Homo sapiens: one gene and its partners. The protein of the gene in region 2 purifies or fractionates together with the protein of the main gene of each other region. This does not show direct contact. Each region holds a gene or a part of one and is shown on either strand. Other genes may lie near its edges. The genes, in order: LZTFL1, RPUSD2, ME1, AARSD1 and TBCD.

Evidence for each region.
Region 1: the proteins of RPUSD2 (region 2) and LZTFL1 fractionate together in Homo sapiens (co-fractionation; one large-scale study listed by BioGRID). This does not show direct contact.
Region 3: the proteins of RPUSD2 (region 2) and ME1 fractionate together in Homo sapiens (co-fractionation; one large-scale study listed by BioGRID). This does not show direct contact.
Region 4: the proteins of RPUSD2 (region 2) and AARSD1 fractionate together in Homo sapiens (co-fractionation; one large-scale study listed by BioGRID). This does not show direct contact.
Region 5: the proteins of RPUSD2 (region 2) and TBCD fractionate together in Homo sapiens (co-fractionation; one large-scale study listed by BioGRID). This does not show direct contact.

Annotation. Positions count from the first base shown.
Region 1 is NC_000003.12:45,828,602-45,832,123, forward strand, and holds part of LZTFL1 (leucine zipper transcription factor-like protein 1), read right to left. Parts: intron 2,538-3,522; coding exon 2,472-2,537; intron 2,390-2,471; coding exon 2,312-2,389; intron 15-2,311; coding exon 1-14. UniProt on the Homo sapiens protein: Regulates ciliary localization of the BBSome complex. Together with the BBSome complex, controls SMO ciliary trafficking and contributes to the sonic hedgehog (SHH) pathway regulation. May play a role in neurite outgrowth. May have tumor suppressor function.
Region 2 is NC_000015.10:40,572,288-40,575,460, reverse strand, and holds the end of RPUSD2 (pseudouridylate synthase RPUSD2), read right to left. Parts: intron 1,935-3,173; coding exon 1,200-1,934; 3' UTR 512-1,199; downstream 1-511. UniProt on the Homo sapiens protein: Pseudouridine synthase that catalyzes pseudouridylation of mRNAs.
Region 3 is NC_000006.12:83,424,551-83,428,072, reverse strand, and holds part of ME1 (NADP-dependent malic enzyme), read left to right. Parts: intron 1-3,522. UniProt on the Homo sapiens protein: Catalyzes the oxidative decarboxylation of (S)-malate in the presence of NADP(+) and divalent metal ions, and decarboxylation of oxaloacetate.
Region 4 is NC_000017.11:42,950,021-42,952,257, forward strand, and holds the end of AARSD1 (alanyl-tRNA editing protein Aarsd1), read right to left. Parts: intron 1,875-2,237; coding exon 1,780-1,874; intron 709-1,779; coding exon 573-708; 3' UTR 506-572; downstream 1-505. Other genes in the region: PTGES3L-AARSD1 protein, read right to left, coding at 573-708, 1,780-1,874. UniProt on the Homo sapiens protein: Functions in trans to edit the amino acid moiety from incorrectly charged tRNA(Ala).
Region 5 is NC_000017.11:82,940,556-82,944,077, reverse strand, and holds part of TBCD (tubulin-specific chaperone D), read right to left. Parts: intron 2,680-3,522; coding exon 2,595-2,679; intron 2,589-2,594; exon of another isoform or gene 2,573-2,588; coding exon of another isoform or gene 2,024-2,572; exon of another isoform or gene 2,001-2,023; intron 1,930-2,000; exon of another isoform or gene 1,630-1,929; coding exon 1,615-1,629; 3' UTR 1-1,614. Other genes in the region: uncharacterized protein LOC124904095, read right to left, coding at 2,024-2,572.

The DNA of each region.
Region 1 (3,522 bases), on a different chromosome or scaffold from region 2:
GCCTTTATAAAATCCTATGAAAAATAAATGCATGCATGTAATTTCATGTTGATATTCTAAAAATAACTGTTTTAGAATGGTGATTCAACATCATAGGAGATGAAAAAAATGATGTATGTTTTGTGTGCATGCCAGCCTCCCTTGCCAGCCTAGGTAAGTGCCAGCCCCTTCAGAGTCACCAGCAGGCCAGTCCATTGTCAGCCCTGGGTACGTGGTGTCTTGCACACAGCCGACACTCAGTAGCCACTGAATTCCAAATACATAAAATATGATTTGTGAACTGCTGGTATTTCCATCCAAGATGTGTGTACCAGGGTTGAGATGGCAAACAGGTTTCATTTTGAAAAGCCAAATTTAAAAAAATCCTCAAAGAAGTTTGAATTCTTCAAAATGATAGAAAAAATGATAAAAGTAATATAATTTATACCAAAAACTTAATAGACATATGTTTTAGTCATTATTTACAAGGAAATAATATGAGAGCACAATTACTGATTACATGGTTTTCTAAATTTTTAAGATTTTAAGTTTTTTATATTCATGAGATATGTGTAATTTTTGCATACTTTGACAACTATAGCATAAGACAGGCACTGGATCTTCTCTCTTCCTGGATCTTGTTTTTGACTGGATAAGATTCATGACAGAAAAAACATTTGTACTGATAAGACAGTAAAATGGTCTACAATTGGTTAATATGTAGATGAAGAAATACTTAGTACTTTCAAGTGGCTCTCACGCCTGTAATTCCAATACTTTAGGAGGCCAAGGGAGGAGGACTACTTGAGCCCAGGAAATTGAGACCAGCCTGGGCAACAGAGCAAGACCCCGTCTCTACAAAAAATATAAAAAATTAGCCAGGCATGGTGGCACATGCCTGTGGTCCCAACCACTTGGGAGGCTGAGGTGGGAGGATCGCTTGAGCCGGTGAGGTCAAGGTTGTAGTGAGCCATGGTTGCACCACCGCACTCCAGCATGGGAAACAGAATAAGGCCCTGTCTCAAAAGAAAAAAAAAAAAAAAAAAAAAAAGTACTTTCAACAGAAGAAAAAAAAAATCTTTCCTCATTTTTGAAATCTGGTCTTTGAAAAAAAGATTTTCATTGCAACTAATAAAAGCACGTATTCACTGGTTGTTCTTGTGTCCAAAATCTTAAAGTAAAATTGGAGCAAAGCCCCAAAAAGCTTTTAAACAAATTCATCAGCCACATGTGTTTGCAATTGTTTGACTTAGGAGAAATTATAAAGCGGTTCTGGAACATTCGTGTTTTTATAAATCTATTGTCATTGGCATATAATGGTTGAAAATCATTAGCTATATAAGAAGTATCCTCCTATTTTAAAAATATCTACAGATAAAATGGTTCAACGTCTGAGATTTGCTTCAAAAAAACATGGCTGGTGGGAAGAAGAAAGTAGAGGTACAAATGAAACCAGACTGGCCATGCATTGGTAACTGCTAAATAGAGTGAAGAGTGCATGGGGGTTCATTATACTATTCTCTCTACTTTTGTGTATGTTTGAAATTTTTCATAGAGAAAAGATTAGCAAAAGCCCAGTGAAGCAGATTTTGGGTTTGTTTACCAGACATTTGCAATGAGAGTATGACCACTAGAAAAGCCAATGCTGTACTGAATATCTACCCAAATGGTCCTGCTCACAGGAAATCATACTGCAGCATGCACACTCAACAGAAAGTCCACAGGAGACAGACTGTACATACAATGACTTCCCGCAGGCGGAGTGACATTCAGTCATTACATTCAGACAAGCATGAAGAACTACAACACTGGATTTCATTGTACTCTATGGTGCCGGCGGGTACAGACGCATCTGCAGATTCATAATCATTTTGTCACACTCATCAAAGGCAAACTTAAGTAATGTTCAGTATAATAAAACCCAAATATAAACCAATTAAAAACTTTTCTTTTCATTTTCTTTCCCCTCCACTGTAATTGGATGTCAAAGTGAGAGGGGAAACTTAAAAAAAAAAAGTGAGAATATCTTGCATACCAGGAAGATTGTAGAAAAACTTAAAAAATAAATGTGAGAATATCTTGCATGCCAGGGAAACTGCAGGTGTGTGAGCTATGTACTGTCCCCTCTGCCCTAGAGGATGGACAGAGGGAAGGTCACTGGTTCTCACCAGGCCTTTTGGGGGCAAGAATGTCCCAACACATGACAATAGAGGCATTTGTCTCAGGGAGTAGCAGGGGTGGGGTACAGTGAGCAGTAACTAAGACTTAATTTTAAGTTTATAACTTCATTCTACTTAGAAAATGTGAGAAAGGTAGCTAAAACTTGTTTCACCTTTTGATTTCCTTGATCAAGCTGTAAATCTTGCAGTGCTTTTTCTAGTTTTGACTTTTCATCCAGTGCATTTGTAGCCTATAGTGAAGTTTAAACAAAACACTTTCAGTATTTAATCTGTAGGCAGTTCAATAATTGTGTCAAAACATTTCTCAGTTACCTGTATTTCAATGGTCTTCAACCTTGACTTCAATTTCTCATTCTCTTCTTGAAGTCTTAAAATTTCCTTTGTGAGTAAATTCAAATTTTATTATATTAACCAAAATATTTTAATATTTGAAATTATTACTTGTTTCACTTAAAAATCTAATTTTTAAATTTAAATTACATAATAGCTCAAAAATGTACTACTGATATTTTGGTAATATCCCAATTTCATCCAGCCTATCAGCCTCAGTATCTGTGAGTCAGCTTTGGATCTAAGACATCTAGTTTCTTTTCTTTCAGTTTCTCAGACACATCTTCCCTCTTTCAGTCCTCTGTTTTCTGTTTTCAAATTTTTTTCCAAAGACCCGCTTCCCTGCCAACTTTCTCCTAGCTGGTCCTGCAAATCCTGGGTCTATTCTCAGCCTACACTGCACACTGTTGCCCCTTATCCTGAGAACTCCTTCACTTCAGTACCATGCTCAAGCCCACAGATGCTTCTGACTGAGGTGAGGCCAAACACTTTTGTTCTTATACAGCTCAAACATTTGAATCATCTGTGTTATTTTTCAGTAGACTCAAATAAACACATCAGCCCAGTCAGAGGGCACTGCACTCTGTTTCAAGTCATGCCGCCTCCTGTCTGACCACTGCCTGTTCTGTTCTCCTGCCCAACACACTCACTTCTCTTTCCTCTACAATTTAACTGGTCTTCATCCTTCAAGGCCCAGCTTAGGTACCCCTTTACCCAAGAGCCTGTTCTCACCTACTGTTATCCACACACAACTGAGTCTTCTCTGCTACCCAGTATGACACCTGTAGCACACAGGAGAATATTCTCTGGTCTCTATTTCTAGAACATCAGTTCTACTTTCCCAATAAAACTATTACATTTTTGGCCGGGCACGGTGGCTCACACCTGTAATCCCAGCACTTTGGAAGGCCGAGGCGGGCGTATCACAAGATCAGGAGATCAAGACCAACCTGGCTAACATGGTGAAACCCCATCTCTACTAAAAATACAAAAAATTAGCCGGGCGTGGTGGCAGGCGCTACTCGGAGGCTGA
Region 2 (3,173 bases):
TTGGGCTGTTAGTCTTTTTGCTAAGACTCTCACATCCAGAATATATAAAGAACACTTACACTCCACAACAAAAAGACTAACAACCCAGAATGAGATGCCACTTCACTCCTACTAGGATGACTATAATCAAAACAAAACAAATGTTGGTGAAGATGTAGAGAAATTGAAACCCTATGCTTGCTGGTGGCAATATAAAATGGTTCAGCTGCTGTGGAAAAGTTTGGTGGATTCTCAAACATTTAAACATAGAATTACCATATGACCCAGCAATTCCACTGTGAGGTATATACCCAAAAGAACTGAAAACATATTTAATGTTCACAGCAGCACTATCCACAATAATGAAATGGTGGAAACAACCCAAATGTCCATTAACTGATGAACAGATAGACAAATCGTGGTATATCCATACAACAGCTTATTCTGCCATAAAAAAAGAATGAAGTACCGATACATGCTACAAGTTGAATAAACCTTGAAAACATTATGCCAAGGGAAACAGAGACATAGGTCACATGTTTTATCATTCCATTTATATAAAATGTCCAGAATAAACAGGCAAATCCAAACAGACAGAAAGTAGATTAGTGGTTGCCAGAGGCTGGTGGAAGGGGAGTGGAAAGTGACCACTTACTTAATGGGTACAGGTTTCCTTTTGGGGTGATGAAAATGTTTTGGAAATATATGAGGTTATGGTTGTACAACACTGTGAATGTACTAAATGTGACTACGCTGTACATCTTAAATTGGTTAATTTTTTTTTTTTTTAAGAGACAGGGTCTCACTCTGTCACCTAGGCTCTGGAGTGCAGCAGCACAATCACAGTTCACTTTAACCTTGAACTCTTGGCCTCCAGTGATCCTTTCACTTCTACCTCCCAAAGTACTAGGATTATAGCCATGAGCCACTGTGCCTGGCTAGTTAAAGTGGTTAATTTTATGTTATGTGAATTTTACATCAGTAATAAAAAAGAAGCCGGAAGAAAACCAGACATCAAAGATGTTAGAAAAAGGGATATATTTACAAACCAAAAAGTCTCCAAATTCCCACTGGAAGGAGGTAGCAAGTATGAGCAGGTCTCTTTAGAAGCCCGTCCTCATTCCTATAGAAACCCCAAGTACTAGCCCATGGGGTCAGCCCTTGCCCTATAGCCCATCCTTGTCACAACCCAAGAAGCAATCCCTCCATTGGCCACACCCTCAGTCCTTTTGCCAGTCATCCTGTGCCCAGGCAGGCATTGGTGAAAAGTACTCAAAGCCTGGCCCTTTATAGCGTAGGGCATGTAGGAACATCACAAGGTCTTGGGGCAAGGGATCCTGTCGCACCAGCCGGCACTCTGCACAGAGTGGGTCTGTCTCTTGATTCATGACATCTGTTTCAACTGCCTTCTCTGATGCCAAGGCTATTGTGTCCAACTCCTGAGGGGCTGCCTCAGCTACTTCCTCCATCTTCTGGGCAGCTGCAGCCAACTCTTCCAGGTCGTCCTTGCCCAACTCTGAGGAGGGGGCCGTAGAGTCTGTGAGTCCTGGGGACAGGTCACCCTCACAGAGATCTAGCACATCCAGGCTCTGTTTGGCCTGGTGCTCTGCTACCAGGTCCCGTAGCAACTCCTCGTTTGTCTTGGGAATGTAGCCGCCCCGGCCTCGAGAAGGACCCCAGGCAACTGAGTTGTAGATGGGGTCGTTGAGAATGGGATGGCCCAAGAACTGAAGGTGGACTCGAATCTGGTGTGTGCGGCCTGTGAGTGGCCGGCACCGTACCACACTGGACTGGCCATTGTAGCTTAGCCTCTGGAACACTGTCTCACAGGGCTTGCCCCGGGGATCTACACGGCACACCCCTACTTTGTAAGACACCACTAAGATGGGTTCTTTACAGGTCACTTCCTCAGTGGGGAACTCCCCTTCCACCCGGCACACGTACTCCTTCTCCAGCTACATAGGAGGGAAGAGGGAGAAAGTCAGTACAAAGCCTAAATTCATGGAGTCCAAACTCTTTGTGGAGTGATAAGGACCAGTGTCAGAAAATTCAAACTCCAGCTCTACCATTCGCCAGTTTTGCGATCTTGGGTACATTACTTAACCTCTAAATCCTACTAACTCATCTAGAAAATGTGAAATTAGAAAAGCATTTACCAGCTGGGTGAGGTGGCTCACGCCTGTAATCCCAGCACTTTGGGAAGCTGAGGTGGGTGGATCACCTGAGGTCGAAAGTTCGAGACCAGCCTGACCAACATGAAGAAACCCCGTCTCTACTAAAAAATACAAAATTAGCCAGGCGTGGTGGCGCATGCCAGTCATCCCAGCTACCTGGGAGGCTGAGGCAGGATAATTGCTTGAACCCAGGAGGCGGAGGTTGCAGTGAGCCAGGATCACACCATTGCACTCCAGACTGGGCAACAAGAGCGAAACTCCATCTCAAAAAAAAAAAAAAAAAAAAAGAAAAGAAAAGAAAAGCATTTACCTCATTGGGCTGTGATAAGCATTCAGTAAGTTAGGCTCTAATGTGCTTGATACTAAGCCTGGTATATAGCATGCACTCAATAAATGTATTATGATTCAGATCCAGAATTACAAGTCTCAGGACAACAATCATTACCATTAAACTCCTCTACCCAAGACTTTTCCAACTACATCTAGAATCTTTTCACCAAGCAGGCTCTCCCCATAATCTTAAAAGCCTTGCTCAGCCTGTCAGCACTTTATTTTCTTATGTTAATTTATTTCTTTGAGACGGAGTCTTGTTCTATAGCTCAGGCTGGAACGCAGTGACATGCTCATGGCTCACTGCAGCCTCAACCTCCCATGGCCAAGTGATCCTCCTATCTCAGCCTCCCAAGTAGCTGGGACTACAGGCATGTGCCACCATGCCAGGGTAAGTTTTTTTTTTTTTTTTTGAGACAGAGTCTCACTCTGTCACCCAGGCTGGAGTGCGGTGGCGCGATTCGGCTCACTGCAAGCTCCACCTCTTGGGTTCACACCATTCTCCTGCCTCAGCCTCCCGAGTAGCTGGGACTATAGGTGCCCGCCACCACGCCCAGCTAATTTTTTGTATTTTTTTTTAGTAGAGACGGGGTTTCACCGTGTTAGCCAGGATGACCTCGATCTCCTGACCTCGTGATCTGCCCGCCTCGGCCTCCCAAAGTGTTGGGATTACAGGCGTGAGCCACTGCG
Region 3 (3,522 bases), on a different chromosome or scaffold from region 2:
AGTTGTACTATATAATTTTGTATTTACTAACTTGTCTTTTTATTTTCCTTTTTTTTTTTTTGAGACAGAGCCTTGTTCTGTTGCCCAGGCTGGAGTGCAGTGGTGTGATCTAGGTTCACTGCAAACTCTACCTCCTGGGTTCAAGTGACTCTTGTGCCTCAGCCTCCTGAGTAGCTGAGATTACAGGCATGTGCCACTATGCCCAGCTAATTTCTATATTTTAATAGAGACAGGGTTTGGTCATGTTGGCCACGCTGGTCTCAAACTCCTGACCTTAAGTGATCTGCCCGCCTCGGCCTCCCAAAAGTGTTGGGATTACAGGCGTGAGCTACTGCACCCGGCCATAAGTTGTATTTTTTTTTCTTATTTCTTTGATTGTCATAGGGCAGGAGTCACAATATTTAGTACAGTATTTTGCTCAGTAGACATTAAATAAATGTTTACTTAATGAATGAGCCATGTCTTTATTTTTGTCTTTAAACAGAACTCAGCTTTTAAAGTGATAGTTTAGGCATTGTCCTCTTTAAAGTAATTTTGTGAAAATAAATTCACATTGAAGTCTAAAGTTTAGTTCACTTCCTATGCCATTATATAGTATGCTGAAATGTAGTCAGAAAAGTTGAAATGTGGTTTAAGCTTGATAATCTCATGAAATTTTAATTACTTGCTGGATAACCTAAGGGAGGTGCTTCATCTTGGTAAAATCAAAGTTAACAGTAGATATGGTATGAATTCAAAAATTTTCAAAAAACTTAAGAGAATTAGGATCTTCATTTGTTATGATTCATGTATGAGTCTAAGCCTTACTATTTGTTTGTATTAAAATATGCATCATTCAAGGTAGGATTTCATCAAAACAATTGGGGAAGTAAATCTGCCTCATGTTTATGAGATTTAATATTTTTCTGTGCATAGCCCTAACTATTTTTGAGATGCTTATCTTTGCCGGTTTTATATAAATGTGTCTAATTTAATGTTTAATGTTTTTTATTTTCAGGGATATGGTCTAATATAGATGAGTTGTGTTTTAAATTTTTTTCTCAATAATTTTCATGTGACTAATAATATTTCATAAATTGCCCTTCAAAATTAAAATTCTACACATAATAAAATAATCATGCCTATTTTTTATTCTCAATTAGTTTATTTCCCTTTGCAATGGTAGAAAACACTAATTGATAGTTCTATCATAATTGTGCTTACATGGTTTCTATATCTTAAGAGTAAATAATAACATGACCCATAAGTAAATCTCCAAACAACACCACTCTTCCATATTTTAGGCAGTTTGGTTCAGTATAAGTCATGTTTAAGAGTTACGTTCCAGTAGAAGATAGTGTTTTATCGAAGTTAATTTGGGTCATCATTACTAACTTTTACATCTAAAAAATCAGCTTTTGTAGCTGTTTGTTTCCTGGCATGACAAGACCTAGTTGGGTGTGTTGTAAGAAAGAGAGAGAAATAAGATTCATGGCAATGAAGGAAAAGTACCCTAAACCTCTTTTTCTTCAATGTAAACTAGACCTGAATGAATTATTCAGAAAATTTCATCCAACCACATTCTCTAGAGTTGCCTCTGCAACGTGAGAAACTGATTTATTATTTAACATAGAATCCCACTTATGTGAAAGTCATATACAGCCAGGTACCTCTGTATATGTTTGTTACCTTGCTGCAGTGGAAACAACAGTAGTAGTATAGAATATCACAATAACAAAATGTGTGCTGTAATAAGAAAGGTGAGTTTGATATGGTAACTCTTGAGACAGGTGATATGGAGTATAAAAAATATTGAAGAAAGGAATGGATTTGAGATTTTGCCTTTTTCAGCTCTGATTTCCCTCTAACTTTTGGACAGGTAGGGGAGAATGTGATGTAAAGGAATGGACATTCTAAAACTTTGTGCCTAGAAGAAATGAGCCCAAGTCCCAAGCCTCCCAATTAGCTGTGTGATATAGCATCTGGGAAGGTCCTCCTTGCTACATCATCCCATGGCGGAAGGCAAGATGGTAGAGGGTGAGAAGGAGCAAGAGAGGGCTGAACTTGCTTTTATAAAGGAACCCACTCTTGCTTGCAATAACGAACCCACTCCTGCATTAACAATACTAGTCACCTCATAAAAATCCCACCTCTTAACACAGTTGCATTGGGGATTAACAACACATGGACTTTTGGGGACAGATTGAAACCATAGTAGGAAGTCAGGTAATATAATAATGAATAATGTTCTCTAAAAACATGAGAATATAACTGCTAGAGCTTTTCTACTAATATACAGACCCTGGATTTAAAAACACTGGTATTATTTTTTCAATAATCAGGTAATGGTTGAGTAAGAACATCGGCAAAAATACTTGTGTGTTTGATATGGTTTGTCTGTGTTCCTACCCAAATCTCATCTTGAATTGTAGTTCCCATAATCCCCATGTGTTGTGGGAGGGACCCAGTGGGAGGTAATTGAATGATGGGGGTGGTTACCCCCATGCTGCTGTTCTCCTGGTAGTGAGTGAGTTCTCACGAGATCTGATGGTTTTATAAGGGGCTTTCCCCCCTTTTGCTCATTCTTTTTCCTGCCGCCATGTGAAGAAGGATGTGTTTGTTTCCCCTCCCGCCATGATTGTATGTTTCCTGAGGCCTACCCAGCCATGCTGAACTGTGAGTCAATTAAGCATCTTTCTTTATAAATTTCCCAGTCTTGGATATGTCTTTATTAGTAGCATGAGAACAGACTAATACAGTATTCATACCAATGTTAGTAATTATGTTATCAGGCTAGTTGTGATGGCTCACACCTGTAATGCCAGATGTGAGCCACCTGGGAGGCCGAGGTAGGAGGATCACTTGAGCCCAGGAGTTCAAGACCAGACTGGGAAACATAGCAAAATCCCATCTTTACAAAAAAGAAAAAAAAATACAAAAAGCTGGGCATGGTGGTGTGCACCTGTAGTCTCAGCTACTTGAGTGGCTGAGGTGGGAGGCCACAGTGAGCCATGATCACACCCACTGCACTCCAGCCTGTATGACAGATTGAGACCTTGTCTCAGAAAAACAAAACAAAGCAAAACAAAACAAAAGAATAAAACCTTAGAGATCCAGAGGCTGAAGGAGTTCTAAGACTTCCATTGTACTATTAGGCATTGGCCCTTTAAGCTTAGAATATATTTAAATACATTTAAATTGTCTATTCAGAGTCTTAAGATGGCCATCTAGTAAGTCCAGGAGAGAAGCCATAGAATAAAATCAGCCCTCCAGACACCTTGATTTTGGACTTCTATCCTTCAGAACTTTGATAAAATAAATTTATGTTTAAGCCACCCAGTGTGTGACGCTTTGTTGTGGCAGCCCTAGCAAACTAATGATATACTTCTGTAATTGAAGCAAAATTTCATAATACAGCACTTTCCCTTGCTTTGTTTAGTAGACATTTTCTGGACTTTGACAGGAACATGTAGGTGAGAAGCAGTAATGATCTAATCAGTCAGGTTTGCTTGTAGCCATTGCCAATTTTTGACAATCTCTGTC
Region 4 (2,237 bases), on a different chromosome or scaffold from region 2:
CAAGATCGCACCACCGCACTCCAGCCTGGTGACAGAGCGAGACTCCATCTCAAACAAAAACAAAAAACAAAAACAAAAAAATCAGCCAGGCATGGTGGCACACACCTGTAATCCTGGCTACTCTGGAGGCTGAGGCAGGAAAATCCCTTCAACCCGGGAGGCAGAGGTTGCAGTGAGCTGAGATCACACCACTATATCCAGCCTGGGCAACAAAGCAAGAGTCCATCTCAGGGGGTGGGGCGGTAGGGGCGGGAAAAAGCCATGTGCCTTTGTGGATTATAACAAAATTATGGGAGCAGTGGACTCAGCTGATCAGATGTTCATTTCTTATCCAACTGAGTGCAAAAGCACAAGGTTTGGTATAAATTAATCCACCACCTTCTAAACATTACAGTGCATGAACTAAATTAGAAAATTATCTATTTATAAACGGAAAGTAACCACACAAGCACAATGGAGTATACAGTACGAATTAGTCATATAAATACAAGTGGTAGCGCAACCATTCTGAGTCAATCTATTTTATTGACCAAAAGATTCCTGTGGAAACAGGAGGTGAGTGCCCTAAGCCCTCACTCCTTAGCACTCTGCGTGCTGATGTAGTCCTGGAGAAGCGCCTGCGCCTCCATCCGCCGGCTCATCTTGGTGGCCTTGCCCTGAAAACGGCCTTTCTTCCCTGCTCCTTTGCCTTCCAGGACCTCAGCCACCCTGGGGAACAGAGGTATAGTCAGGGAGACTTTGAGGGAAAAGTCACAAAAAAAAACAAGGGCAGCTCTGAGTCTTTTTCCAGGGACTGGGAGAGGGATAAGAAGAGTAGATGACTTCTAGGAATCTTTCTTGAAAACACTTGCACATAGGCTGGGCATGGTGGCTCACACCTGTAATCCCAGCACTTTGGGAGGCCAAAGTGGGTGGATCACCTGAGGTCAGGACTTCAAGACCAGCCTGACCAATAGGATGAAACCCCGTCTCTACTAAAAATAAAAAAATCAGCCGGGCATGGTGGTATGCGCCATAATCCCAGCTACTCAGGAAGCTGAGACAGGAGAATTGCTTGAACCCGGGAGGCAGAGGTTGCAGTGAGCCGAGATGGTGCCATTGCACTCCAGCCTGGGCAACAAGAGTGAAACTTTGTCTCAAAAAAACACTTGCACATATGCACAAAGATATATGTACCATCATCACATAAGAGTGAATAACTGGAAACAACATCAGTGTCTATGAATTGGGCTAGATAAATTATGTTAATCTCCAGAGAGCAGGGTGAGCACCTGTAATCCCAGCACTTTGGGAGGGCAAGGCAGGTGGATCACTTGAGGTCAGGAGTTCGAGACCAGCCTGGCCAACATGGTGAAACCCTATCTGTACTAAAAATACAAAAAATTGGACGGGTATGGTTATGTGCACCTGTAATCCCAGCTACTTGAGTGGCTGAGGCAGGAAAATTGCTTAAACCTGGGAGGTGGTGGCTGCAGTGAGCTGAGTAGCCTGGGCTCTCCAGGCTGGGCAACAGACTAAGACTCCATCTCAAAAAACAAAAACAAACACATTTCATAAAAACAAAAACAAAAACATACATGTGAGATGTGGAGCCAAAAGACCTTCAACTGTCAAACTGGAAATGACAGTAGTAATAATTATCTCTGCTCAGCCCACCTCACATGCCCATGATGTGAATTAAATGAGATCGCAGATGTGATGGTCCTTTGACTCAGTAAAGGAATGTATTTGTAGGATACAGGCTCTACTACATGTGCAAGAGAGTCCACAAAGAATTACCTGGGCCCCAGGGTCTCCACAGACGCAGGTGGCCCTGCCAGTAAGAAGAGTCCACCACCTTTCTCATCGCCCACAGTTAAGAACAGGAGGGTCTCCTAGGAGGTAAGACAAGGAGATAAGCTCTGATACTGAAGGATGTAGAGTCAACCCCCCAAATCCTGCACTCTCTTCAATCTTAAGAATAGATTATTTCCCCCTAAACCACCAAGTGACGCTCCTGATGAATGATGATACAGCCCCTCCACACTGGCCCACGAGGGCCAAGAAACTTTTTGAGAGCAACTATGGGAACTTAGGTGAAACATTAAGAAGGCAGCAGAAGACTGCTGATCCTGGCTAAGCAGAAAATGCCTTTCATGGTTTCACTCTTGCAAACTTTTCCCCACCACACATCCTTTCCCTGCCACTGCCTAAACCACCAGGTTTCCCTCTGCCTGGCCGCCTCTGCCCCTTGTCTG
Region 5 (3,522 bases), on a different chromosome or scaffold from region 2:
AGAAGCCACTTGTTCCTTCCATCCTCAGTGCATCCCAGGCCAGCAGGAGCTTTGTGAGCTGCAGGCATGGCGATGGTGCGCCTGTTCCACACCCAGCAGGCGCAACCAGAGTCTCGTGTGTGCCGACCACAGGAGCCAAGCCTTTTCCACTGTGTGGACTCATGTGGCCAAGGCTAGGCCTGGTCACCCAGGACCCTCACCACGTGACCCCAGCCAATCGGGACAGTTCAAGGAGGAGGAGACCCCTATTACACAGGTTGGAATAAAATATTTAAATCTCGTAAAAATGTAACCCAAGGCTCTTTTAGGGTATAAAGACCATTGGCCACCAGGTCAAACACAACAACAGTAGTGTGTTAACCCCACACTCCTGTGTGGCCAGGTCGTCACACACATCCCGTGAAGAGCTGTCTGCTAAACACACAGCACGGACTGTCACAGTCCTGGTCTTGTGGTCCTGGTGACCTCACAAGCCTCACAGATGCGGTGGCACCTCCCAGTTCTCGGCCTGCCCATGTTCCTGTGTCCAGGCCCCATCCCCACCTGAGAGCAGGCCAGGGAGCCACCCTAATCTACACCACGCACATGGCACCCCTGGGCTCCTCACATAGGGAAAGGGTTGCTCACCCAAGCCCTTGGGCCTCTGAGTGGCCACACCTGGGGCTGCTTTGGTGCTGCTGGCCGTGGTTCTGCACCTCAAGCCCTATGAGCACAGCACAGGTCCCAGAGATGGGTGTGGGTTGCTACCACAGTGAAATTTTTATACACGTTCCCCTCACCAGCTTTGGGATGGATCAGCACGAGCTCAGACACAGAGACAAAGGTAGCCTCCTGCCCTTTGCCTAAAAACCCAAGTGTGGACTCTGCCCAGGCTCTCCTAAGACAGTGTAATTATTTCAAGAATGGTATTTATTTCCGACATTACTGTAGAGGCACACATTGGACTCTGACGATTCCCCTTGCAGCAGACATTTGTGAAGCTGCTGGTCGGCACACCCATCAATCAGTGACTCCTGCACTGCAGAGGGGCCACATGCACGATGCTCACGTGTGCACAGGGGGGAGGACAGCACCCCCACCAGGCAGACGGGCCCAGAAACAGCATCTGCCCAGCACTCCAGACCATGCCTGCCACCAGGGCTTCTCAGTTCTCTAGCATTTGAACCTCTGATTTAACATTCATCTCTCTCCAAGACTGGGTGGGGCACTGCCTGTGGCCAGACGTCTCCCACAGCAGGGACAGCACCAGGCAAGAAGGGGGCCTGGTCTCCAGGCAGGAGGAGTGCAGCCCACCTCCCCTCTGGCTGACCCCTGGGCAGTGAGCCTTTCCATCACCCCTACACACATCAGGCTCAGAGACAAAAGGCAGGAACTTCTTGGTACATGATTTTATAGGAAGCACATTTGTGTTCAAGTGAAGGCAGAGGCGTCCACCCCAAGTCACCAGAGCGCAGGTGCAGAGAGGAAAAGCTGTCAGCTAGTGCCAGCCTCCAAGGGCCAGCGCTACCCTTCAACAGCTGGAGGCACCACTGTGCGAGGCTTTCCACACCGGCCTCCCTCAGGAACAAGACATCCTCACCAGGCAGGGGTGAGGTATGGGCTCCAGGACTGGCTTCAGCAGGCACCAGGCTGAAGAAGAGACAAGACAAGCTCAGGCTGGTCAGCTCCAACACACACCATTCCCAGCCAGGGGACCCTCACCCCTCTGGGCCCTGTGTGGGGACTGACACGGTTCCTGCAGGAAACCATTTGTGCCGTTTCCCACACACCCGGCAGCCTGAGCTATGTGGCTGACAGGTGCTCATGACTAACGTGTCCTCGGAAGGGCACCCCATCTGGGGAGCGGGAAGGGAGGTTCACTGCACTGCTCTTAACCTGCATTCACACGTTTGAAATTTTTCCTAATAAAAATGTAAAAAGCACATTTAATTCCAAAGTCTGCTGTTGAGTTCAGCCTTTACACACACAGAAATGGGGGAGGCTGTGTCCTGATGCTCAGCCCATCCCCACTGCCCCCATGTATCTAGACATGGTTCTCCTCCTCCCTCTCAGATATAACCTCCTGCCGGAAGGAGGCTGAGAGGAAGGAGCCAACCCTGGTAACTAGAGAGACAGCACAGCAACCCTGGGCCCCAGCCCCCGAGAGAACTGAGGTACTTGTTTTTGTTACTTTAGAAGAGTGACGGGCTGGTGAGGTGCACAGGGGCAGCTTCTGGGGGCCTCTCACCCAGCCCCGGCCCCACTCATGGGAAGCAGATGAGGAGGGGTAGGGTGGCACTCTTGGCACTTGGAGCACAAACAGACCCCAGGGCCAGGCATGAGGAGCCTGGATCAAGCTGGTGCCAGCTCCACCCACTCCCCGGCCCCCCAAACGCCCCAGAGCAAGTGGCCTGGATGCCACAGGGGCCCACAGGTGTGGGCAGTGGCCAGAGAAGGCAGCTCTGCTGGTCCCGTAATCCCAGGGGTCCTGACATGAGACGAGGGAACGGGCCGTGTGGACGTGCTGGCAGAAGCTAAGCACAGCCGCTGGCCCCAGAACATTCCAGAGCTCAGGGAAGCACAGGCACCTCATGCTGTGAAGGTGACAGGGTTACCTGGGGCACCAGCTGGGGCCTGGGTACGCCCAGAAGGTCACACAGACGGTTGCGCTGCTCTCTCACCACTGCAAGCTCCGCGTCCCTGTGAGGAGAGGGAGAGCCGTGAGTCTCTCGAGTGCCCACCGGAGAACCTCAGGTGTGCGGAGGTCCCGCGTCAAGCTTCCATGGCCGCAGTCAGGGAAAGGAGACCTCACCCCCGACATCCATAGCCAGGCTGAGGGCAGAAAAGACGTCACAGGAGCACGTTCTCCAGCAGAGCCTCGAGCCTGAGCCCTTTCCGGAATCGCAGGAGGACGGTTCCTTCCCAACAAGGGGTGCCCCTCGGGAAGGACCACGCCCAGCGCAGGGACTGCGGGAGGACAGACCAAGCGAGGCCAAGGAGGGGCTGACAAGGGTTTTCCAGGTTTTAATTTAGCTGTTGATGCGAAATAAAAATTCTAGCAATGCTGTGGAGATATCTGGGGCATGTTTTTCGTTTCTAATTTAAAATATTCTCTTTAAATTCTAAGGATTTTTTTTTTTAACAGAAAGGGGATTAAACGATAGGAGAAGCCCCCAGGCCCACCCTGCTAGTTCCTCCCTCCCTGATGTGAGGAAAGGAGGCCACCCCGACCCAGCCTCGCTGGAGGAGGCCTCGCCCCGCTCGGGACACCTGGCTTCTTCAGTCCTAAAGCCAATTATTTTAGAATCTGGTCCAGAATGCACCTTGGTGTTTTTTTTTAAAAAAATCATTGTAAAAACGGGTCTCCAGAGCAGTAGTTAAGATGGCCATTCTCTCAACGCATGTTGAGAAGACAGCCCAGCTGCTCCCGGTTCCTCTCCTGGGACCACGTGTTTGTTTAGGAGCAGACACACACTCCTCCCCAAACCAGAAAACCTCGCGGAAGCCCTGGAGAGGCCACCTCTGTCCTCCGAGGCCACAGCG